Regions from separate parts of the Homo sapiens genome. Here all the other regions are linked to region 3. Evidence: fine-mapped expression QTL. A gene starts in region 3. Each other region holds a variant in brackets. All regions are shown on one strand. Distances are between the middles of the regions. Region 1 overlaps CAMTA1 (calmodulin binding transcription activator 1). Region 2 overlaps TNFRSF9 (TNF receptor superfamily member 9). Region 3 holds the start of TNFRSF9 (TNF receptor superfamily member 9).

Region 1 (8,182 bases), 200 kb after region 3:
AGTCAAAACTCCATTAGGCAATTTTTAATATTTTATAACCACCTTGATAATGAGAAAGGCCTAATATTCATGTAATTTCTCTGAGCTTCAGCTTCTTCATCTGTAAACTGGAAATAAATACTGCTTACTTCAAATAATTGTAAAAAGGAAATGAGATGGGGCACCTAAAAAATCTAGTGCATACTAGCTGCCCCAAAAATATGACTTCCCTTTCCCATCTGACTAGTTACATAACCCTACAAGGTGGTTTGCAAACAGAAATACTGCATGAAAGAGTACTTAGATAATCTTCTTGCACCTTTAACTAAGGTGCACAAAAGCAGTTTAAGATGTTCTGAGCTTCTTCTGATTTTCAAAGATTTTAACAATTCTTCATTTTAAAATGGATAAGAAGCTGAAAGGAAAATGGCCAAAGATTAAATACCTTATATAATTCAAACTCAAAGGTAATAAATAGCCAGCATTTACTTTCTCCAATCACGGTATCACACCCTGGATTCCCTACAGTTCTCTAATTACTAGGGAGTTTATCAAAGTATTGGACCACGGATCCTCACTGCAAAGATACTGGTGTTAGGATCAGACCAGTATCTCAGGTAGGTAATATTACTAAAAGATCAAAAATTTGGACAAAAACCCTTTTGCGGTACAAGTCTAATTGCAGATGGTTTTATTTTGTTTTCCTCTGGTTTTTTTTTGAGACGAGGTCCAAGCTGGACATCAACACCTGGGTTCAAGAAGATCCTCCGGCCTCAGCCTCTTGAGGAGCTGGGATTACAGGCACACGCCATCATGTGTGGCTTCCCCTGTTTTTGTTTGTTTGTTTGTTTGTTTGTTTGTTTGTTTTATCATGGCAGTTCAAATTAAGTCTCTGGCCGGGCGCTGCGGCTCATGCTTGTAATCCCAGCACTTTGGGAGGCCAAGGCGGGCAGATCACTTGAGGTCAGGAGTTCAAGACCAGCCTGGCAACATGGTGAAACCCCGACTCTACTAAAACTAGAAAAATCAGCTGGGCATGGTAGCACACGCCTGTAGTCCCAGCTACTCGGGAGGCTGAGGCAGGAGAATCGCTTGAACCTGGGAGGTGGAGGTTGCAGTGAGCCCAGATCATGCCACTGCACTCCAGCCTGGGCGACACAGCCAGACTCCGTTTCAAAAAAAAAATAAAAAAAAAAAAACAACCAAAAAACAAATTAAGTCTCTGTAATGAGGTACTAGATGTAGTGCTCTTTAGCCAAACCAGGATCTTCAGTGGCCTTGGGTGGGGCACAGTTTCCTTCTGTGGTGCAAAACTGAGGTTTACCTGTTTATATTTTCTGTAACAACGCTGAATAACAGCAGCAGCTACTTCTTGCTGTTCCCGCAAGGGTCGGCCCTTAAGGGTAAAGTAAGGAGAAAAAAAATCAGTAATGATTAACTACCAGAAATGTCAGCTTTTTATTACTACTCATTTAATGCACCTTCTCAGAGTTGAGATCCCAGGTTTACCAAAAAATATTGATAATTAATTATAAATGAGGAAAAATGAATTTATAGAATAAACCTTAGACTATCCTTGCTTCTAAATAAAACTATGATATTGGAATGTTAAGCAGACTAAAAATATATTCCCTTTTAAAGTATTTAACAAATTAGGCATTGTACTGTTTGTCTTGCCAGATCTCAACTATCTTTCCTAAGATAACCCCAACTACTTTACTTTTGGATCAATGATTAATGGCTTTTAACACTTTTTTGGGAGTGGTTAGAGACTACTTTGAGAATCTGTAGAAAGCCATGGGTCCCCTTCCCACCAAAAATGCACACAGAAAAAGCTTTACTGCTTAATTTTAGGAGTTCAGGGGCTGCCTGGAGTCAGCCCCCAGGCCTCCAGTTGAAAACCCCTGCTTTAGGTCACGACCTCCTAGCAGCAGAGGGGTCACCTTACTTTATATTAACTGAATAATACGCATTATCATTACCAACAGTATGTTGACATGGTGATAACCATTACATTATTGGCTAACATTATTTTACTAAAGCTTCTGAGAATTATTTAATGTGACATTAATAACTTTAATTAAAAATTCTATGAACTCATGAAATTTGTTTTAAGGAATAATAAAGAGACATTGTACTCAGGATGGCAAGGTAGAATAGGAAAATCAAGGCTGGGTGCGGTGGCTCATGCCTGTAATCCCAGCACTTTGGGAGGCCAAGGCAGGCGGATCACTTGAGGTTAAGAGTTCGAGACCAGCCTGGCCAACATTGTGAAAACCTGTCTCTACTAAAAATACAAGAATTAGGCGGGTGTGGTGGCACGCGCCAGTAATTCCAGCTACTTGGGAGGCTGAGGCAGGAGAATCACCTGAATTGGGAGGTGGAGGTTGCAGTGAGCAGAGATTGCACCACTGCACTTCTCCAGCCTTGGCAACAGAATGAGACTCCATTTCAAAAAAAGAAAAAGAAAAATCAGCATTGTTCTGTGCCGGAAAAGCCCCATTCCCGCCCTGGCCTAACCATGGATGGGCCCTTGTCCCAGCCAGTTATTCTCTATGCCTCAGATAACTGAGAAGACTACGCTTCTGAAACTCTTCTATGAAGGTGCTTTAGGAACTTTGTAAACATTTGATAAAAATTTCATGTTTAACTGTTTAAAAATTGGTTGTTAAAAGCAAATGGTTTGGGAGAATGAGAAAGCTCTGGAAATGGGTAGCAGTGACAGTTGCACAGCACTGTGAATATACTTAATGCCCCCACACTGCACACTTTAAAACAGACAAAATGGCAAACTTTATGTTATGAATATTTTACCATAAAATATTTTTACAAAGCAGATACACACACAGATATGTTATATAGTGAATCTTAATAAATTGGAGACTTCCAAAAAAATTCTACAAATTCAGAGGAAAAAAAGAAATAGTAAATGTTTTTGTTCGCATGATTCTGACTTTCATCTGTCCTCTCTGATCTTAAGAATGTCACAAAACGAAGGTTCTGTTCTAGTTTACCTTGTATTTCCGGAAAGCTGTCTGGACAAGCCTGGCAGCCTCATAGAGTTCTCTCTGTTCATGATCAGACAGAGTGAGCTGAGCAAACTCATTCTCTACCTTCTCACTGGTAGATGCACTCAGGAATTCTGACCAATCCGCGGCGGAGGGAAGGTTAGGTTTCTCGAAAGCGATTTCACTGACGGGAGAGCCAACAGGGCTCAAGCTGGTATTAGAAGAAGGGGTTAGAGGCTCGTTATATGCACTTCTGAAACAAGAGGAGAAAAAGGAGAGACAGATTAATGATTGATTTGCACCACCCATTAGATATTAATGAATGAGCCAAGATGGTATCTGCCAGAAGCCACTGTGGGCAATTAGGAACATGCCTTCATTCAGTTAGGCAAGTTGCTAAACATACCCAGTGTCCTTCGATTGAGTAAGTTTATACTCAACACCTATCATAACTTTAGTACTATGCTAAATACTAAAACCTAGTAGCAGTACACTCTACTGCCATTAGAAAACTTCAGCTGAATTAGGGGGAAACATTATGCTACATTATCTCTCTTTTTTTTCTTTTTTTTGAGACAGAATCTTGCTCTGTTGCGCAGACTGGGGTGCAGTGGTGCAATCTCAGCTGATTGTAACCTCCGCCTCTTGGGTTCAAGCAATTCTCCTGCCTCAGCCTCCCAAGTAGCTGGGATTACAGGCGCCTATCACCATGCCCGGCTAATTTTGTATTTTTAGTAGAGACGGGGTTTTACCATGTTGGCCAGGCTGGTCTCAAACTCCTGACCTCAGGTGATCCACCCGCCTTGGCCTCCCAAAAGTGCTGGGATTACAGGCATGAGCCACCGCGCCCAGCTTAACACGATCTCTTATGCTCTGATAGCAGTAAAAAAAATAATGGGAGAGGTAGGAATAGGAGCTGGGCCTTGAAAGTGGCAACAGAGCTTGTCCTCATGCTTCCTTCCTTCCTTGGTATGGTCTTCTATGACACGGCATTCATCAAATACAATCAGCCTCCCCTGCCTCCAATTACATCCGGGAATCTATGCTGGGTAGTGACCTCCGTAACTTTACTCACCGGATCTGGGCAGCACTGGGAAGGCAGTCAGCATCCGCTAGATAACTGGCCAGCCAGCTCATTGTACTGCTAATGGTGGCAGGGTCTGTTCTTTCCAATCCTGAGGACTCCATGGGCACAAAATTCTCCTGCTTGATTCGGTCAGGTGTGGCTTCAATAATGTGTTCTGCCAAGGTCATCATGTTCACCTGAAGTCAGAAGTTCACAGAACACTCAGGTTAGAAAGGAACCTTACAAGTTATCCAGGTCTACCTCCCTGCCTCGCCTTGGAGAGAAAAAAATAATCAGGCAGGAGGGCAGACTTCCACCTCAATCCAATGCAATGAAATACCATTTTAAGGTTATAACATAACACACCAAAATGTGCTGAGATCCTGAGACCTGATTATCTCCAAGTCATAGTCTGGCCCCAAACCTTTAGTCCAGTCTTGGAGAACTTCTGGCTTGTATGTACTCCCTACTCTCAGGGTCAACCAATTAATGACACTGGGCAGTTCTAGAGTAACCTGTAATATTAATGAGGTGTCACTATTAGTTACATAACCAATATCTAACCACCCCCTTTTGTCTGGCCTAGAGAACCCCGGTCTAGGCTGGGAACAGTGGCTCATGCCTGTAATCCCAGCACTTTGGGAGGCCGAGGTGGGTGGATCACTTGAGGTCAGGAGTTCCAGACCATCCTGGCCAACATGATGAAACCCTGTCCCTACTAAAAATACAAAAAT[T/C]AGCCAGGTATGGTGGTGCTTGCCTATAATCCCAGCTACGTGGGAGGCTGAGGCAGGAGAATCACTTAAACCTGGGAGGTGGAGGTTGCAGTGAACCAAGATCGCGCCACTGCACTCCAGCCTGGGCGACAGCGCGAGACTCCAACTCAAAAAAAAAAAAAAAAAAAAAGAGGCCAGGCGCAGTGGCTCACGCCTGTAATCCCAGCACTTTGGGAGGCCAAGGCTGGCGGATCACGAGGTCAGGAGATTAAGACCATCCTGGCTAACACGGTGAAACCCCGTCTCTATTAAAAAATACAAAAAATTAGCTGGGCGTGGTGGCGGGCGCCTGTAGTGCCAGCTACTCGGGAGGCTGAGGCAGGAGAATGGCATGAACCTGGGAGGTGGAGCTTGCAGTAAGCCAAGATCGCGCCACTGCACTCCAGCCTGGGCGACAGAGTAAGACTCCGTCTCAGAAAAAAAAAAGAAAAGAAAAGAAAAAAAGAATCCTCAAAGCTGGTCTGGATTAAGATATTCTTTATGAGAATCAGAGATGTGGACTGATTCTTAAAAATGTCCTTGCATACCTCTTAGGAGTGGTAACTGAAACACAGCACTTCGGGTTCTTAAGTGAACTGAAAATGTTCTCGATGGAACTATACAAAGTGACAAAATGCTTCTCCTGCCAACACGAAGGAGCCTCAACAACATCCTGCTAAGTGGAAACAGCCGCAGTGGGCTGCATGGTGCATGATTCCACTTACATGAAATGTCTAGAAAAAGCAAACCTCTGGGGATAGAATCAGATCAGTGGTTGCCTAAGGCTGGGCAGAGACGGACTGCAGATGGGCACAGGGCACCGTGCAGTGAGATGGAAGTGTTCTAGAAAGGGACTATGGTGATGGTTGCTCAGCTGTATATGTTTACTAGAAGCCATCCCCTGAGCATTTAAAATGGGTAAATTTTATCATACGTAAATTATACCTCAATAAAGCTGTTAAAAATGCTTATTGTGGATAATTTTATAAATTTTTTATCATACGTAAATTATACCTCAATAAAGCTGTTAAAAATGCTTATTGTGGATAATTTTATAAATTTTCATCAAAGAACAATTCGTTTTTGTAATAACAATAAAAATAAAAAATTTAAGAAAAATATATTGGGCCAGGCGTGGTGGCTCAGGCCTGTAATCTCAGCACTTTTGTGAGGCCGAGGCGGGTGGATCGCCTGAGCTCAGGAGTTCAAGCCCAGCCTGGGCAATATGGCGAAACCCTGTCTCTACCCAAAAAAACCCCCAAAATTAGCCAGATATGGTGGTGCAGGCCTAGTGCTTTCTTACAGTATCTGTAATCCCAGATACTAGAGAGGCCAAGGCAGGAGAATTGCTTGAACCCAGGAGATGGAAGTTGCAGTGAGCCAAGATGGCACCACCGCACTCCAGCCTGGGTGACATAGCAAGACTCTGTCTCAAAAAAAAATTGCAGCTTTCTTTCACCTTCTCTATTGGCCGTCTTGATTTGTGACTCAAACGGTAGGAAGTAAATCTTGCTTTATTCTTTTTCCATGAAAGTATTCAAATATATTAAAAGTAAGGTGGAATTTCTGAAGCCTAAAAGGTTATCACTCTACAATCACTTTCCTAAATCCTCCATTTTATAAACATGTAACAATGTAAAAACATCTTAAGTAACGTTCTCAGTAGTTGGACCTGAAAAGTCACGTCACTCATTTCTAAATTTCATGGATTGTGCTCAGAGAAGACGGCCTTTAAATGGGTAGCTTTGGATTTTTATTCAAATTTTCTTCGTGTCCTAGTATATGAGCAGTTTTCATAAACATGCCTTGGACACCTGAAAAGAACAATTATATACGTAGTTGCTATGTGTATTAACTACATACACACATATAGTTATATATAAGTATATCATATATTAAATCTATCATATAGTAAATATATATGAAATCAAGCCTTCTGATTTTGTTGTTCAACTTGTTCATATGCTTTTCATATCTACTTGATCTGAAAAATTCTGAGCTATGTGTGTTAGTAGCACACTGTGATTATGGGTCCACATTTCTTTGTATTTACTAGTATTTGCTGTAATGTTTCAAGGTTATGGTGCTAGGTACACAATAGTTTATAACTGTCATATCTTCTAGATAAACTGTATGTATATATATATGTATATATACACACACACATTAATTTGCCTTGAATTGTACTTTTTATCTTTCTTTTTATACTCGTTTATCTATTATAGCTGTTATCTATCATTTCATTTTCATTGTTTCTCTTTCATTTCATTTTGATTGTATTTCTTACAAGTAGCATATAGTATATCCTGCTTTTATTTAAAAAAAAAAAAAAAAACAACCCGAGGCCGGGCATGGTGGCTCACACCTGTAATCCCAGCACTTTGGGAGGTGGAGGCAGGCAGATCACAAGGTCAGGAGATCGAGACCATCCTGGCTAACACAGCAAAACCTCCACCTCCAGGGTTCAAGCAATTCTTGTGCCTCAGCCTCCCGAGTAGCTGGGATTACAGGGACCTGCCAACACACCTGGCTAATTTTTGTATTTTTAGTAGAGACGGAGTTTCACCATGTTGGCCAGGCTGGTCTCGAACTCCTGAACTCAGGTGATCCTCCCACCTTGGCCTCCCAAAATGCTAAGAATACAGGCATGAGCCACCGCACCTGTCCTTCTGTAGCCCGTTTTTATGCTACCTACCAACTTAACATTTTTTTTTTTTTGAGAGAGAGTCTCGCTCTGTCGCCCAGGCTGGAGTGCAGTGGTGCGATGTCGGCTAGCTGCAAGCTCTGCCTCCTGGGTTCACGCCATTCTTCTGACTCAGCCTCCCGAGTACTGGGACTACAGGTGCCCGCCACCATGCCTGGCTAATTTTTTATATTTTTAGTAGAGACGGGGTTTCACCGTGTTAGCCAGGATGGTCTTGATCTCCTGACCTCGTGATCCGCCCGCCTCGGCCTCCCAAAGTGCTGGGATTACAGGTGTGAGCCACCGCGCCCGGCCAACATTTCTAACTAGCATATTTCAGCCTATCCAGCGCACATCTATCTATATCACGAGTGGAACAAAATCTGTTACTGTCCCTGAACCCGAGAGCTTTCATACACTTTTACTCTCTTCATTTCCCTACACTCCCTGGTTTTGTTAAAATAATTTAGAATTTTAGTTCTAGGAGATAGTTTAAACATTATTCGTCTTCTATTTAAAGAGTCCCTTCCTAACAAATTCCTCTCACATATACCACACTATCGATAATTGCTCAGTTTTACTGTTTGATTGTTCACTCCTCTATGAACGGTTTTGCCACTTTTTCTAAAATTATTTCATTATTTTTAAGTGTTATCTTCTCATTTGGCTAAAAAACTTTCTTTAGACTGCTGCT
Region 2 (8,182 bases), 29 kb after region 3:
CCATTTCAGGAACAAAGCTAGGTGCGAATATTTTTGTCTTTCTGAATCATGATGCTGTAAGTTCTAAAGTGATTTCTCCTCTTGGCTTTGGACACATGGTGTTTAATTACCTACTGCTGACTATCCACAAACAGAAAGAGACTGGTCATGCCCCACAGGGTTGGGGTATCCAAGATAATGGAGCGAGGCTCTCATGTGTCCTAGGTTACACACCGAAAATCCACAGTTTATTCTGTGAAGAAAGGAGGCTATGTTTATGATACAGACTGTGATATTTTTATCATAGCCTATTCTGGTATCATGTGCAAAAGCTATAAATGAAAAACACAGGAACTTGGCATGTGAGTCATTGCTCCCCCTAAATGACAATTAATAAGGAAGGAACATTGAGACAGAATAAAATGATCCCCTTCTGGGTTTAATTTAGAAAGTTCCATAATTAGGTTTAATAGAAATAAATGTAAATTTCTATGATTAAAAATAAATTAGCACATTTAGGGATACACAAATTATAAATCATTTTCTAAATGCTAAAAACAAGCTCAGGTTTTTTTCAGAAGAAAGTTTTAATTTTTTTTCTTTAGTGGAAGATATCACTCTGACGGAAAGTTTTGATGTGAGGGGCGGATGACTATAAAGTGGGCATCTTCCCCCACAGGAAGATGTTTCCATCTGTGGGTGAGAGGTGCCCACCGCAGCTAGGGCAGGTTACATGTGCCCTGTGTGTGGTAGGACTTGGAGAGTGATCTTTATCAACGTTTTTATTTAAAAGACTATCTAATAAAACACAAAACTATGATGTTCACAGGAAAAAAAGAATAAGAAAAAAAGACCTTATTTTAAAAAGCTTTTTATAACTGTTGCAACATCATATCATAAAGGGTAATCATGAAATAAGGTGCCATTCTTTGTAAACTTTGGCTTTTAGTGCCGAAGGATGCTAAAGATTTCCAGTATGAGATTCCTTTTGCTTTCAACAATTGACTTATTAGTTACATAAAAATGGATGCTGTTGATCGGGTGCAGTGGCTCACACCTGTAATCCCAGCACTTGGGGAGGCCAAGGGGGGTGGATCACCAGAGGTCAGGAGTTCAAGACCAGCCTGACCAATATGGTGAAACCCTGCCTCTACTAAATAATACAAAAATTAGCCGGGCGTGGTGGCATGCACCTGTAATCCCAGCTACTTGGGAGGCTGAGGCAGGAAAATCACTTGAACTTGGGAGACGGAGGTTGCAGTGAGCCAAGATCCCACCACTGCACTCCAGTCTGGGCGACAGAGCGAGACTCTGTCTCAAAAAAAAAAAAAAAAGAAGAATGCTGTTTTTGGCCAGTCACAGTGGCTCACACCTGTAATCCCAGCACTTTGGGAGGCTGAGGCGGGTGGATCACATGAGGCCAAGAGTTCAAGACCAGCCTGGCCAACATAGTGAAACCTCATCTCTACTAAAAATACAAAAATTAGCCAGGCATGGTGGCACACGCCTGTAATACCAGCTACTCGGGAGGTTGAGGCACAAGAATCACTTAAGCCTGGGAGGTGGAGGTGGCAGTGAGCTGAGATCACACCACTGCACTCCAGCCCGAGAGACAGAGTGAGACTCTGTCTCAGGAAAAAAAAAAAAAAAAAAAAAAAAATGCTGTTTTCCCAGCTTGGGCAACATGGTAAAACCCCATCTCTACCAAAAATACAAAAAATTAGCTAGGCATGGTGGTGCATGCCTGTAGTTCCAGCTACTTGGGGGGCTGAGGTGGGAGGATCATTTGAGCCCAGGAGGTCGAGGCTGCAGTAAGCCATGAATGCACCACTGCCCTTCAACCTGGATGACAAAGTGAGACCTTGTCTCAAAAAAAAGAAAAAACTGTTGTTACATCAATATTGATTCAGATAGCTGTATTTAAAATTCACTAAGCCATTGAAGCCTTTCAAACAACTTTTCCAAATTCATTGAAGAGGCAGATTCTGACACATTCATTGAAGATGCTGACTATTGGATCCAAATGACTCCTTCACTGAACTAGCAGCCATCCAGGTGTCTACTCTGCACCAGGAACCACATCAGGACACAAGCACAAGGATAAAACTCACTTCCCACCTGGAACTTTCATTCTAGGGGAATGACATGTCTAACCTGATAAGATCCACACATCCACATGATAAGGTAAAACTCACTTCCTGCCTGGGAACTTTCATTCGAGGGGAATGACATGTCCAACGTGTTAAGATCCACATTGGGGTACAAGATGCTTTCTCTAAGAGGAATCTTCATTCAACACAACGCCACCAGGCACCAAGCACCATGGATGGACGGCAAAAGGGGAGTGAGAGCAGCTGCCCTCCTGGTGCTCACGGTGGCGGGTGGGGGGGATGTGGGGAAGGGGCAGCTGTGCACCAGGGAGCTCCGCTGGGAGGCAGGGGAGGGAGGGATGGAGTTGGGGGACGGGGAGGGGGAAGGGGGAGGGAAGGGGGCGGGGGAGGGAGGGGGGAGGGGGGAGAGGGAAGGGAGGGAAAGCGGGATGCAGAGGAAGCGATGCCTGTCCAGGCAGTGTGCTTCTCAGAAGGAGCCATGGGCCCAGGCACATGGGAGGGAGAGTTGGGGCTGGGATTGAGGAGAGGGGAAGGAAGCCACAGGGTGAGCAGGGACCAGAGAGCCAGATTTTATAAGTTATATAAGAAACTCAGATTTTGGCCGGGTGCAGTGGCTCACACCTGTAATCCCAGCACTTGGGGAGGCCGAGGCGGGCGGATCACAAGGTCAGGAGATAGAGACCATCCTGGCTAAGACGGTGAAACCCCGTCTCTACTAAAAAATACAAAAAATGAGCCGGGCGTCGTGGCGGAGGCCTGTAGCCCCAGCTATTCGGGAGGCTGAGGCAGGAGAACGGAGTTAACCCGGGAGGCGGAGCTTGTAGTGAGCCGAGATCGCGCCACTGCACTCCAGAAAAAAAAAGAAAAACAAACAAAAAAAAAAACCCTCGGATTTTAGTTAGAAGCAGTGGCTCACCCTGTAATCCCAGCATTTTGGGAAGCCAAAGTAGCAGGATCCCTTGAGGTCTGGAGTTCAAAACCAGCCTGGGCAACATAGTGAGATTCTGTCTCTTAAACAACAACAAAAAAAAAACAAAAAAAAAGCAGCTTTGATTTTAACATGTGGTCACTAGGAAGCCAGTGAAGAGATTTGATTGGATTTGCCTTTTAGAAAGTGCTCCCTGACTGCAGGGAGGGTGTAACTGAAACGCGGGTTAGTCACTCACTTGCAGACTCCGATTAACAAGAGCGAGGTGTGGTATGAAGACAGTGATTTATCCCAAAGCTAGCTTAGGGGAAGAAATACAGGTGTCCTATCTTAAGTGTCCCGCTTCACCTTTGGAGCAGAAAGACGGCACGTTGAAAAGGCAGGGGAGGAAGTGAGCAGGGCCGGGCGTGGTCTGCAGGCTAGATCTAGTGCTTTATCTACTGGGCGGCTGAGCTAGAGACTGCCGGTGCCTTCATGGGCAGGACTAGGCCGAAAACTCCCCAGGTAGGACAGAGTCCCATATCTCTCACGTCTCTTGGTGGGAGGGAGTTCCGAGGCAACCTCCTGGAGGGTGGGAGTTCCGTAGCAGGCATGCATGCTTTGGTTTGTAAATCGACTATTAGCTCTTGAGGAGAGTCTTGGAGCACAGAGTTAGAGGAACTTGCCCTCTATAAAAACAAAAAAAAAAAAAAAGAAAAAGCTATACTTGCATTTTAAAGGGCAAAGTAGGAAGTGGGGAACCAGGGGAATGAGAAAAGGAGAGAGAGAGAGAAAAAAAAAATAAACGATTTCTTAGAAAAATGGGGGTACGTGGTTACAAGTGAATGGAGACAGGAATACTGCAGAGGGGACTGCTGGCTCCTGGCAGGGCAGAGTGAGAAGTCCTGGGATGGAGCTTGGGGAGGGAGGAGAGCTGTTCCAGGGACAGCTCTGGACTCTGTGGGGGCCCCAGTGGAGGGCACATGAGGTCACAGGCAGAGCCAGAGGGATCACCGGAAGTTGGGAGTTCGAGACTAGCCTGGCCAACATGGTGAAACACCGTCTCTACTAAAAATATAAAAAAGTTAGCCGGGCATGGTGACACACACCTGTAGTCCCAACTACTCAGGAGGTTGAGGCAGAAGAATCACTTGAACCTGGGAGGTGGAGGTTGTAGTGAGCTGAGATCATGACACTGCACTCCAGCATGGGCAACAGAGTGAGATTTCATCTCAAAGAAAAACAACAAGAAAAGGGGGATTTGCGTGTTATAAAGTTCCTGCCCAGGTTCCCAATCAGGTCTGTTTATGCAAATGAAAGACTGAAACTTGCTTAGTTTTGATTGGTTTATGCCGCTGAGTCCTCATTAGTCGATACAGCTGAGCCCTGGTTGGTGGAGGCAGGTGAGCTCCAAAAGTCCCAACATTAAGAAGGTGCTGGTTTTCAGGAATCTCAGAGTACCTGTGTGACTTCTAGTTAGCAAATGGCTAACTATTTTAGCCATTTGGCTCTATTTTAAATTTAGGCTCAGTTAGCCACTAGGGATCTATCTTGAAGAATTCCC[T/C]CTTTCAGGTTCATATTTCTTCACAGAAATAAAACAGTGTGACCACAGTGAGAAAGAGATGAGCCTGTCAAACCCAGATCAGGGAGATAAGATGGTATTTGACCAGCACATGCTGGCATACCAAAGAAATCCCTGGATGATAGTTCTTAAAGATTTCTTTTCACTACTGTTGTTTATTTAAGGTATATAACAAGCCAGAATCCACAGAAAAGTCTTCCATCTGATTTTTTTTTTTTTTTTTGAGACAGAGTCTCACTCTGTCGCCCAGGCTGGAGTGCAGTGGCGCGATCTTGGCTCACTGTAACCTCCGCCTCCTGGGTTCAAGCGATTCTCCTGCCTCAGCCTCCCGAGTAGCTGGGATTACAGGCACCTGCCACCACTCCCGCTAATTTTTGTATTTTTAGTAGAGACGGGGTTTCGCCATGTTGGCCAGGCTGGTCTCGAACTCCTGACCTCAGGTGATCCACTGCCTAGGCCTCCCAAAGTGCTGGGATGACAGGGGTGAGCCACTGTGCCTGGCCTGATATACTTAATTAAACAATTTTGAGGCCATTTAGTGTCAGGGTTAACTTCACGGGCTTTGGACCCAGTAATTTTGAGGTTGGATTGCAGCCACCACCTTTTCGTAGCAGAGGGTCCTTAGGCAGTTTACATAATCCTCTAAACCCTGGTTTCTTCATCTGTAAAATTACGTGGGGCTGTTTCAAAGAATAAATGAATAAGGTATTTAGCCCAGTGCCTCACACAAATCAAGCACCCAGTAAATGCTCTTCTTGGATTCTCATTTAATAAACATGAGTAACGTATTTAGCCATGCTCAGTACAATAACACTCACTTCTATTAAGTAATTTAGAATTTCTGATGCAAGAAATGCTTATAATTCAGTGCAATTATGATCACACATCCTGCAATTGTGCTGTTTCCAAATATAGACCCTGGTTCTAAGAGGTCCCAAGAAGGCAATCGAAGCAAACTGTGTAATGTGGGGGACACCCGCTGTGCACCTTTGCGGTCTGATAGCCGTCTTGGGTCCCAATTCCTCCTTATTCACTACAAAAGTACTGGGAAGTTGAAATGAGCCTGGGCTTCCCTTTGATGTAAGGCATTCTGTAGAGGCAGTCACGGTGGCTCACACCGAGATGGGAGGATCGCTTGAGCCCAGGCATTCACGACTAGCCTGGGCAAGTTAATGAGGGTTAATGAGGCCTATGTCACCACAGAATATAATTTAAAAAAATTAGCCTGGCGTAGTGGCTCACGCCTGTAGTCCCAGCTACTTGGGAGGCTGAGGCAGGAGGATCACTTGAGCCCAGGAGGTTGAGGCTGCCAACAGGTTGAGTGAACCATGATTGTGCCACTGCACTCCAGCCTGGGAGACAGAGCAAGTCCCTGTCTGAAAAAAATCCCAAAAACAAACAAACAAAAAATATTCTGTTGGGGGCCAGTGGAAAATTTCTTCTTTGCTCTCTAAAGAGCTCCTGAAAATCAACTGACAAAAGCCAAATTAATAGGAGAAAAGGCATACAAATTTATTTGATCATAGTTTTATGTTACATGGGAGCCTTCAGAATGAAGACCCAAAGATACAGACGTCAATTTTTATGCTTAGGTTCAACAGAGTATGGACAGCCATGTAGAGATAGGATTGGACAAAAAGGCTCTGATCTGATGCTAGTGGACTGAGTGGGGAGACCCTGGGGGTTCTGTGTAGGGCCTTCTTGGCCTCTCTGTGCAGCCTTCATTCCTTCTGGGTGTGAGGCAGGACCCTCTCTGGAATGGGAGCCTGGTGACCTACAGCCAAACAAGGTAGGTCAGAGAATTTCTTTATGGCCGGTTTTTACAAAGAAAGGCAGGGTGGGCGGGCAGGGGGAGTTAGAGTAATCTTCTCAGGTTTTAAGGCTGGCTTTGGGAAAAAGGGGTTCTGGTTTCTGTGACCCACCTTGGGGAAGGGGGATTCATGTTTCATGGTAGCCTTTGCGGGGAGAATGAGGGGCCAGAGACAGGAGGGCAGGAGAAGTTTAGAGAAAAACTTGCTTCTGAGGCCTTCATTTTGAACTCCAGCAATGTCATATATTAAGCTTTACAAATGAATCCTCCTTAAACAACACGCTGTTACTTTTAAAAGGCAAGTTCCTGGATGGCTTGTGTAAGGTTAACACATACATATGCTTTGCAGATGAAAATGACTGTACTGTGTGTGCTTCTGTGGCACAAGAGTGCTGTTTAAGGCTGGGCGCGGTGGCTCACGCCTGTAATCTTGGGAGGTCAAGGCGGGCAGATCACTTGAGGTCAGGAGTTTGAGACCAGCCTGGCCAACATGTTGAAACCTCGTCTCTACCAAAAAATACAAAAATTAGCTGGGCGTGGTGGTGGGCGCCTGTAGTCCCAGCTACTTGGGAGGCTGAGACAGAAGAATTGCTTGAACCTGGGAGGCAGAGGTTGCAGTGAGCCGAGATTGTGCCATTGCACTCCAGCCTGGGTGACAGAGTGAGACTCCGTCTCAAAAAAAAATATAAAATAGTGCTGTTTAAGAACTTTTTAAAAATAAAATTCCTCTTTTGACCTAAATTTTTTTTTCTTTTTTTTTTTTTTTTGAGACAGAGTCTTGCTCTGTCATCCAGGCTGGAGTAGTGTAGTGGTGCGATCTCAGCTCACTGCGACCTCCACCTCCTGGGTTCAAGCAATTCTCCTCTCTCAGCCTCCTGAGTAGCTGGATTACAGGGGTGCACTACCATGCCTGGCTAATTTTTGTATTTTTAGCAGAGATGGGGTTTCACCATGTTAACCAGGCTGGTCTCGAACTTCCGAGCTCAGGTGATCCGCCCACCTCGGCCTGCCAAAGTGCTGGGATTACAGGCGTAAGCCCAGTACTAAAAAATATTTTTTAATTAACTTTCAAAAAGCTACGCTGATACGCTTTGGCTGTGTCCCCACCCAAATCTCATCTTGAACTGTAGCTCCCATAATCCCCGTGTGTCCTGGGAGGGACCTGGTGGGAGGTAATTGAATTATGGAGGCAGGTCTTTCCGCAATGTAAGATAAGCCTTTGAGGCCAGGCATGGTGGCTCACGGCTGTAATCCCAGCACTTTCGGAGGCCGAGATGGGTAGATCACAAGGTCAGCCTGGCCAATATGGTAAAACCCAGTCTCTACTAAAAATACAAAAATTAGCTGGGTGTGGTGGCACGCACCTGTAGTCCCAGCTACTCGGGAGGCTGAGGCAGAAGAATGGTTTGAACCTGGGAGGTGGAGGTTGCAGTGAGCCAAGATCATGCCACTGCACTCCAGCCTGGGCAACAGAGCAAAACTCCGTCTCAAAAAAAAAAAAAAAATTGTGCCTTTGCTCCTCCTTTGCCTTCTGTCATGATTGTGAGGCCTCCCCAGTCATGTGGAACTGTGAGTCCATTAAACCTCTTTTTCCTTATAAATTACAGTCTCAATTATGTCTTTATTAGCTGCATGAGAACAGAGTAATATATATGCCAATTTACATACCAATCAATGACGCAGAGCCACAAAATTTCTAAATCAGAGGGGAAATAGAAGTCAAGGCCCAGGGGGAGAAGTGGCCTCTCAAGCTTGTGTAGCTGGTGTCTGATCTGACCAGTACTGGGTTCTAC
Region 3 (8,159 bases):
CCAGACACCCAGTCACAGACGCAGCTCTGTGTTCATTGTGTTTGTGTGTTTGTGTCTCTGCTCTGGACAGAACATACTTAACAGCGTATTTGGATTGATGAACAATTTCTAAATATTTGGACACATGGTAAGCAGGCCTCTGTTTGTACTCTTGTCCTGGGGACTGCACAGTGTTGGGGGTGGTCTGAAGTTGGAGACAACTATTGATAAGCCTTAGCATATGAGTGGATGCCACCTGGAGAAAGGGCAGAACAAGGAGGAAAGGTGAGCAAAGTCGATGGCTGCTGACACCCGCCTCTCCTTATGATTCGTACTTCCTTCTCCTTACTCTGCCTCCTTCCTCTTTGATTTCCTGCTCATTTTCTTTGTTCCAAGTTTAAAAACAATTTACTCCTTCCCAGGCCTCAGAACACCTACTGACATCACAAGCACCAGGTATGTCTAATAGTGACTACTAGTTTGGGTGTTTGGAGTAGGGGTGGCGACACTGAATCTTGAAAGAATAGATCTTTCAGGCAGAAAACAAGTGTAAACAGTGAATATCCCACGGAAGAGATTCCCTCTAAGATGCGCCCTGGAAGGGCGGAAGAATATTTTATAGGAAGCTTATTTTGAGGGCTTTCTCTTTCTAAATGTCTCCTTTATCCTGTTTAGAATTGTTGGGCCTTCATGCTATTTAGCCTCAAAGTATTTAGCTGCTTGAGATATTCAAGATTAGACCTATAGTCAATCAAAATGAAATAAAATCTATTTCTTGGTTTATTTATTTATTTATTTTTTTTTTATTTTATTTATTTATTTATTTTTTTGAGATGGAGTCTCGCCCTGTCGCCCAGGCTGGAGTGCAGTGGCACGATCTGGGCTCACTGCAAGCTCCGTGTCCCGGGTTCACGCCATTCTCCTGCCTCAGCCTCCAGAGTAGCTGGGACTACAGGCACCTGCCACAACGCCTTGCTAATTTTTTTTTGTATTTTTAGTAGAGATGGGGTTTCACCATGTTAGCCAGGATGGTCTCGATCTCCTGACCTTGTGATCCTCCCACCTCAGCCTCCCAAAGTGCTGGGATTATAGGCATGAGCCACTGCACCCGGCCTATTTCTTGGTTTAGAATGAGATGCTTAGGATGTGATGAAACAGATTATTAATACTGCTTAGGATGGATGAAACATATTATTAATATTATTAATACTGCTAAAGTGTTGCTGTCTTGTCGGGGTCATCTCTGATTTAGTTTGAGATGGTTTTATGGAATAGAAAAAGCTTTTGTTGCATTTGAAAGATTACAGGGCTACAATGGATAAAGCAATATGATACATGTTATAAAGCAAATGAAAATTATACCAAAAGAGTATTACACCTTTGGCTAGCTTAGATAGTATGTATATCTGGTTAACTATATAATTTGACTTAGCTTACTACGATGATTTTATACCACACAAAAATGCATGCAGTAACATGAATTCTTTTTTTTTTTTTTTTTGAGACAGTCTAGTTTTGTTGCTCAGGCTGGAGTGCACAGGTGCAAACATGGCTGACTGCAACCTCGACCTCCCAGGCTCAAGCAATCCTCCCATCCCAGCCTCCCAAGTAGTTAGAACCACAGGCACATGCCACCACACCCAGCTAATTTTTGTATTTTTTGTAGAGACAGGGTCTGGGCATCTTGTCCAGGTCATCTTGAACTCTTGGGCTCAAGCGATCCTCCTGCCTCAGCCTCCCTAAGTGCTGAGATTACAGGTGTGAGCCACTGTTCCCAGCCATGAATTTTTTAAACGCCTGAGTAAAGTTGAGCATAGCCTTCAGTAGCAGAATTCTGAAGTGGTTGACTTTGTTTAACTGTGGGCTGGCAAAACTAATGTTGAGACTCTTTTAGCTCAGTAAAGACTCTTATGTTACTGGCATAAAAGCCTGAAATAGTGAGCTAATTACTGTGCTGGGAAACTAAATATGTCACTTTCAGAGGAAGTAATGTCTCTGCCTACAGAATGTCCAAAACGTAGACTAGTGAGTAGCATTTAGTTAAATGAAATATGGCCCAGTTAAATGTCACACTGCAATGTTAAACAGAGTACCACATGTAAACAAGGAGATTACTTGGTTAGATGGTGACTTTCAAAGTGTTAGGAGGGGATCAGCAGTCCGATTTTTATGGTGTGACACTCTCACATTCAGCCAATTTCTGCCAAAGTGGGGCAAGGAGGGATCCCACAGATGTCACAGGTAAGATAACTCTCAGATGACCGTCAGTATTTGGGAACACATTTTGCAGGCAGCTCATGCGTTTTTCTCCTTTTCTGTCATGACTTGCCCTGTGGTGGCTCTACTGATGGTCAGTGTGGGAGGCAGGGAAGGAACATTTCAAACCAGTAAGTCTGATCATAGCAATTCCTACTTTCTTGAGAACTATGTGCCAAGCATTGAGCTAAGTATTTCATGCTCATCGTCTCATTTAATCCTCACTCACGAGGAAGATGTATGGTGTCACTGCACCTGTAAGATGTGCTTGCAAAAACAGAGTTAGGGAGGTTGAGAAATTTGCTCAAGATTACACAACTGAGGCAGGAGAATGGGGAACATGAGGCGTGAGAGAGCAAAGGGAATAAAAATCACTGGGAACCGGTAACCCCCCTCACCCCCGAGAGTGGCCAGGGAGAGAGAGGCTGCCTGAGGGAAGGAAGCTCGGCAGGACCCGCTGCAGACCCAGGGCCAAGGGAAGTCCCGCGGGAGGAAACGCGGGCGCGGTGGGGCTGGCTCCAGGCACGCGGGCCAAGGGCGGGAGGGTCGGACACGAAGCCACAAGGCTCCTTTCCTTCCTCCTCCTTCCCGTCTGCCTTCTTCTGCTTCTGCGGCCTGATCTCCGAGTCCCTCTGCCTGCAGGCGGCGGCAGAACGTCCGCATCTGTCCGCATCTCAGCGCTGTCCCCCAACCGAGTCGCGCCGCGTTTTCCTCTTCTGTCGGGAGAGCTCGTGCTGGGAACCGCGGGGCAGGAGGACGGCCCAAGCTACTCTCGATGTCCTTCCCCAGCCCACGCCTGCCCCAGCCACAGTTCCCCTGGTTTTCCTGAGGTTCTCCAGCTGCTCAATGATGGGCAGGTTCATCTACAGCCTGGAGCAGCCGCCTCCTCCTCCTCCTCCTCCTCCTCCTCCTCCTCCAGAAACACCCCTTTTTCCTTCTCCTCATTCTTCCTTCTCATTCTTTCTCCTCCTCACTCTTCCTTCTCCTCATTCTTCCGTCTCATTCTTTCTCCTCCTCATTCTTCCTTCTCCTCTTCCTCTTCCCCTTCTCTTTCTGTTCTTTTCTTCTTCCTCCTCCTCCTCCTTTTCTCTTTATTTTTCTCCTCCTCCTCCTCTTCTCCCTCTTCTTTCTCCTTATACTCCTCCTCTCCTCTTACTGTACTTTTTTTTCCTTCTGCTTTCTCTGCCCTCCTCTTCCTCTTCTTCTTCTTCTTCTTCTTTTTTTTTTTTTTTTTGTGGCTGGAGTGCAGTGGCGCAATCTCGGCTCACTGCAACCTCTACTTCCCAGGTTCAAGCGATTCTCCTGCCTCAGCCTCAGTAGCTGGGATTAAAGGGGTCCACCGCCACCATTCCCTGCTAATTTTTGTAATTTTAGTAGAGACAGGTTTTTGCCATGTTGGACAGTCTAGTGTCAAACTCCTGACCTCAGATGATCCATCCACCTCGGCCTCCCAAGTGTTGGGATTACAGGCATGAGTCACCGCGCCTGGTCTCTTTCTCCTTTTTTTTTTTTTAAAGAAAAATTGAAATCATGGTTTTCTAAAAATCCCTCCTAGCTCTCAGCTTCACCGAACCACGTCCTGGTCATTGACTTGCCGTGTGACTGCTGTGCTTCCCCTGTTTCCATTTCCCTCCATTTCTCCCTCCTTCCTCCCTCTGTCACCCATGCCCGGAGGAGCACGATAAGGGACCAGGCCGACCTGGGTTCCAACCCTGCCTGCTCCCTGTCCTGTTGACGCTCTAATTCCACTTGCAGCCCCACTTTCCTCATTTGCATAGTGTTCTCCCAGTAACAACAGCAGTCATACCAAGTTCTAGGGTTCTTTCGAGGATAGTGTGTATTCACCGCAGTGCATCTCTGATGCCTGGCACATCGGCTGTGCTCAAGTAATGGCAGCTATTGCATTACAGTGACTATGGAGTTAGGGGACCGCATATGGCAAAATGCTGATCACTGTTTTGAATTTGGTTTCATTCCTCTAATCTCAAATCCAGTGTTTTAAGGACATGCTAAATGCTTTGTCCTGGAGAGCTATCTTAAGGGACAAAATCGTTTTCCCAGCGTCATCTGTGACACATCCTGACAGTAGAGAGCTGCTTCCAAGAAGCAATTTGAAGTGCCATTATCAGGCAGGGACGGGGGCTCTAGGGGATTTCGGGGTCAGCAGATATGAAATGAATGATTTCATAGGGCTGTCACAGAGCTGTGGTGGGAATTTCCCATGAGACCCCGCCCCTGGCTGAGTCACCGCACTCCTGTGTTTGACCTGAAGTCCTCTCGAGCTGCAGAAGCCTGAAGACCAAGGAGTGGAAAGTTCTCCGGCAGCCCTGAGATCTCAAGGTCTGTCCATCTGGGGGAGTGGGTGGGGGCACTGAGAAGGGGTGAGATTGGAACTTTTGCTCCCTTTGCCCATTTCTAGACTTTTTCTCCTAATATGTAATAACTTCTCTTCAATAGCCCTTTAAATAAACATCAATAACTTAGCCTGAAGAGTTTTTCACTCCTTAGTTTTGTTACCATACAAACTTCACATCTCAAAACATGTCTCTGTTTAAGAAAATGTGTTAGTGAGTTGAACAGGGAGGTCTTTCCACATGTTAGTAGTTAGGTGTTCAGCTAAAGGGGGAAGAGTGATTATGTGATAGCTTCTTCTTGAACTGAATTGTCTGATGCCCCTGACAGATTCTCTTTGTAAGGAGTTTATTTCAGGGGCAATAAGTAATTGGCATTATTGCTGGTTGGTACTGCAAAGTACCTATGAAAGTCCCCAAAAGTTCTTGCTATTGTTATTTCTGCATTTTGGCAGAACATGATGGAAAATGCACCCTCAAACTTTGGCAAACCGGCACAAAGCTGTGTGTTTAATCACGCCTGCCTTGTCCTAGTGGTTTCTATGAATCTGCTACTTTTCCGTAATATTGCATCATTAATTGTTCCTGAAAAACCCTGAGTTATCCTCTTATAGAATTGTATAAGTAATGATTGCAATATAGATAATTTTGAAAGGAGAAACCACCTTTCCTTGGAAATGTTTATCTTTTGCAGAGTGACATTTGTGAGACCAGCTAATTTGATTAAAATTCTCTTGGAATCAGCTTTGCTAGTATCATACCTGTGCCAGATTTCATCATGGGAAACAGCTGTTACAACATAGTAGCCACTCTGTTGCTGGTCCTCAACTTTGAGAGGACAAGATCATTGCAGGATCCTTGTAGTAACTGCCCAGCTGGTGAGTACCCAGTTATCATGTGCATTTGATCTGCTCTGTTGGAAGTATGGTTCAGTTAGTCTAGTAGTCAGGGCTAACGAGCTCCCTTTTAAGGAAAGGAAAATGAAAATTCATTCATTTACAAATGTTTATTGGATGCTACAACCTAGCTGTGTGAACACAGCAAAGTCATTCAACCTCTTGTGCCTTGACTTTCTCATCTGGGGATAATAAGAGAACCTGTTTTATAGGATGGCTGGGAGGATCAAATGAAGGGCTTAGAACAGTGCATGGCACAAGGCAAGACTTCAATAAATGTTAGTTTTGTGTGTAGGGCTTTGTGCTCCGACTGGGGGCATAGCAGCGAGTAAGCGCGTAGTAAAGGGCTTAACAGAGTGGGGACGGTCAGTCGCATTTAAATTTTAGTGTAGGACATTGATGTCCTCCTGGATCCAGTCATATTCATCTCCTACATCAATCAAGATAATCATTTTGTTTTATTCAATAGATAAAGTATTTTCTTTCTGTTGATTTATTTGTTACAATATCTGGTTTTTTTGTTTTTTTTGTGTGTGTATGTTTTTTTTTTTTTTTTTGAGACACAGTCTCACTCTGTCGCCCAGGCTGGAGTGCAGTGGCACGATCTCAGCTCACTGCAACCTTGGCCTCCCAGGTTCAAGCAATTCTCCTGCCTCAGCCTCCCGAGTAGCTGGGATTACAGGTGTGCACCACTGCGCCTGGCTAATTTTTGTATTTTTAGTAGAGACAGGATTTCACCATGTTGGCCAAGCTGGTCTTGAACTGCTGACCTCAGGTGATCTGCCCGCTTCGGCCTCCCAAAGTGCTGTGATTACAGGCGTGAGCCACTGCACCTGGCCTGTATTTTGTTATTTCTAATTCTGTGATTACACAAAGAATAATCTTGCAAATGTATTGTTTTAGGAAGTCAATCAAACTAATGTCCACCACTGTGGCATCTAGAAAACTCATCATTCTTTTATAATCTTATTTTATTGTAAACTTCGGAATGCCTTGGGTGACGATTGCCCATTGTCAAACGTGTACCACTATTGTCTGCCTTTCTTAGGTACATTCTGTGATAATAACAGGAATCAGATTTGCAGTCCCTGTCCTCCAAATAGTTTCTCCAGCGCAGGTGGACAAAGGACCTGTGACATATGCAGGCAGTGTAAAGGTATGAGTTCAAAGATATTTTCTTCTTCTAGAAGATAGTTGGGAAGATAAGCTTTTCTTTCCCATTTACTAACTGCTCTCTTTTGAAAATCTCAAGTGTCAAAGACTGATTCTTCTGCCAACCAGCAGGTCTAGGACAATAATATCCAGTGACAGCAATTATTTGTGGACTGAGCTTTCTAAATATTAGAGGAAACATTCATTTGACAAGAGAGAAGTTTTTACTTACCTAAATGTAAAAATGTCTTTATGGAGATTTAAAAGTAAACTTTAAAATTACTGGGAACACTATAAGTAGAGTGAGCATGATTTTTACTGCAGAGCATAAATTCGCTTCCTGGATTTGGAGGTCAAGTGTAATAAAATGTTGGGGGCTGGGGGGACTTTGTAGGTGTTTTCAGGACCAGGAAGGAGTGTTCCTCCACCAGCAATGCAGAGTGTGACTGCACTCCAGGGTTTCACTGCCTGGGGGCAGGATGCAGCATGTGTGAACAGGATTGTAAACAAGGTCAAGAACTGACAAAAAAAGGTACGTTTGCGTTTCTTTGATCTAGTGTAGTTTTGTGACATAGACAAACTTAGCTTTGATCTTGATCCTTTGAAAATAAACAAACAGATTTGTAGAACCTTAAAGTAACAAGGGAGTATATGATATATCATATTTTAATTAATAAAATATTTCAATTAATAAAATATTTCCGTTATTTCTTCATAAATGGAAATAATTTGAAATCAGAACATTTGTTAATTGCCAGAACCATTAATCTTCACATGTTCCAGACATATACAATACTTTATGTACAATTAAAATAAAAACTAGCCATCTTAGGGTGTTGTTTCAAGAATTATTGAACAATTTGTGCAGATTGCATTATGGTAATGACTTATATTAAGTTCATCACAGGAAAAGTTACAAAATGATGAAAATGCTTCCCTTTTATTATTGCTTTCATTTTTAATACAAGGTTGTAAAGACTGTTGCTTTGGGACATTTAACGATCAGAAACGTGGCATCTGTCGACCCTGGACAAAGTACGTATAATTTCCTTTAGTTTATGGAATAAAGAATCTGGGTTAAATTTTTTGGAAGATAAGGAATGCTATCATTGAAGCTTTTTTGCACCCATCAAGTGTAGACAGAATGTAACATACTAATAGGCAGCGTGGGAACACTGTGAGGTCGTAGCAACTCAATAGGCAAAGTGGGCATTTTCTCCAGAAATAGTGCCTGGAACATCTAGATCAGAATTGCCAGTGGAGGCTGGGCACGTGCAGTGGTTCACGCCTGTAATCCCAGCACTTTGGGAGGCTGAGACAGGAGGACTCCTTGAGCCCAGGAGTTCAAAACCAGCCTGGGTGAGACCCTGTCTCTACAAAAAATCAAAAAATTAGCCAGGCATAATGGCACATGCCTGTGGTCCCAGCTATAGGGAAGGCTGATGAGGCAGGAGGATCACCTGAGTCTGGGAGGTTGAGGCTGCAATGAGCTATGATCGCACCATCGCACTCCAGAGCAGAGAGC

The links. PIP is the estimated chance that this variant, and not a neighbour inherited with it, causes the effect.
Region 1: its variant is the best candidate, but not a certain one, in a credible set for the expression of TNFRSF9 in whole blood (TOPMed, PIP 0.83).
Region 2: its variant is the best candidate, but not a certain one, in a credible set for the expression of TNFRSF9 in blood mononuclear cells (TOPMed, PIP 0.65).

Annotation. Positions count from the first base shown.
Region 1 is chr1:7,740,903-7,749,084 of GRCh38, reverse strand. CAMTA1 (calmodulin binding transcription activator 1) reads right to left here. Exons shown (of 23, transcript NM_015215.4): 17 at 4,063-4,250; 18 at 2,994-3,240; 19 at 1,304-1,375. Among named protein-coding and RNA genes, the nearest start is that of VAMP3, 26 kb to the left of the region's middle. The variant T/C (reference allele first, on the strand shown) is at 4,788.
Region 2 is chr1:7,908,521-7,916,702 of GRCh38, reverse strand. It overlaps TNFRSF9 (TNF receptor superfamily member 9), which reads left to right. Exons shown (of 8, transcript NM_001561.6): 8 at 1-832. It also overlaps a transcript of UTS2 not described here. Among named protein-coding and RNA genes, the nearest start is that of TNFRSF9, 28 kb to the left of the region's middle. RefSeq lists an enhancer at 5,313-5,814. The variant T/C (reference allele first, on the strand shown) is at 4,562.
Region 3 is chr1:7,937,200-7,945,358 of GRCh38, reverse strand. It overlaps TNFRSF9 (TNF receptor superfamily member 9), which reads left to right and starts at 4,520. Exons shown (of 8, transcript NM_001561.6): 1 at 4,520-4,575; 2 at 5,281-5,464; 3 at 6,531-6,638; 4 at 7,029-7,166; 5 at 7,603-7,669. The coding sequence starts at 5,365. RefSeq lists a silencer at 2,677-2,816.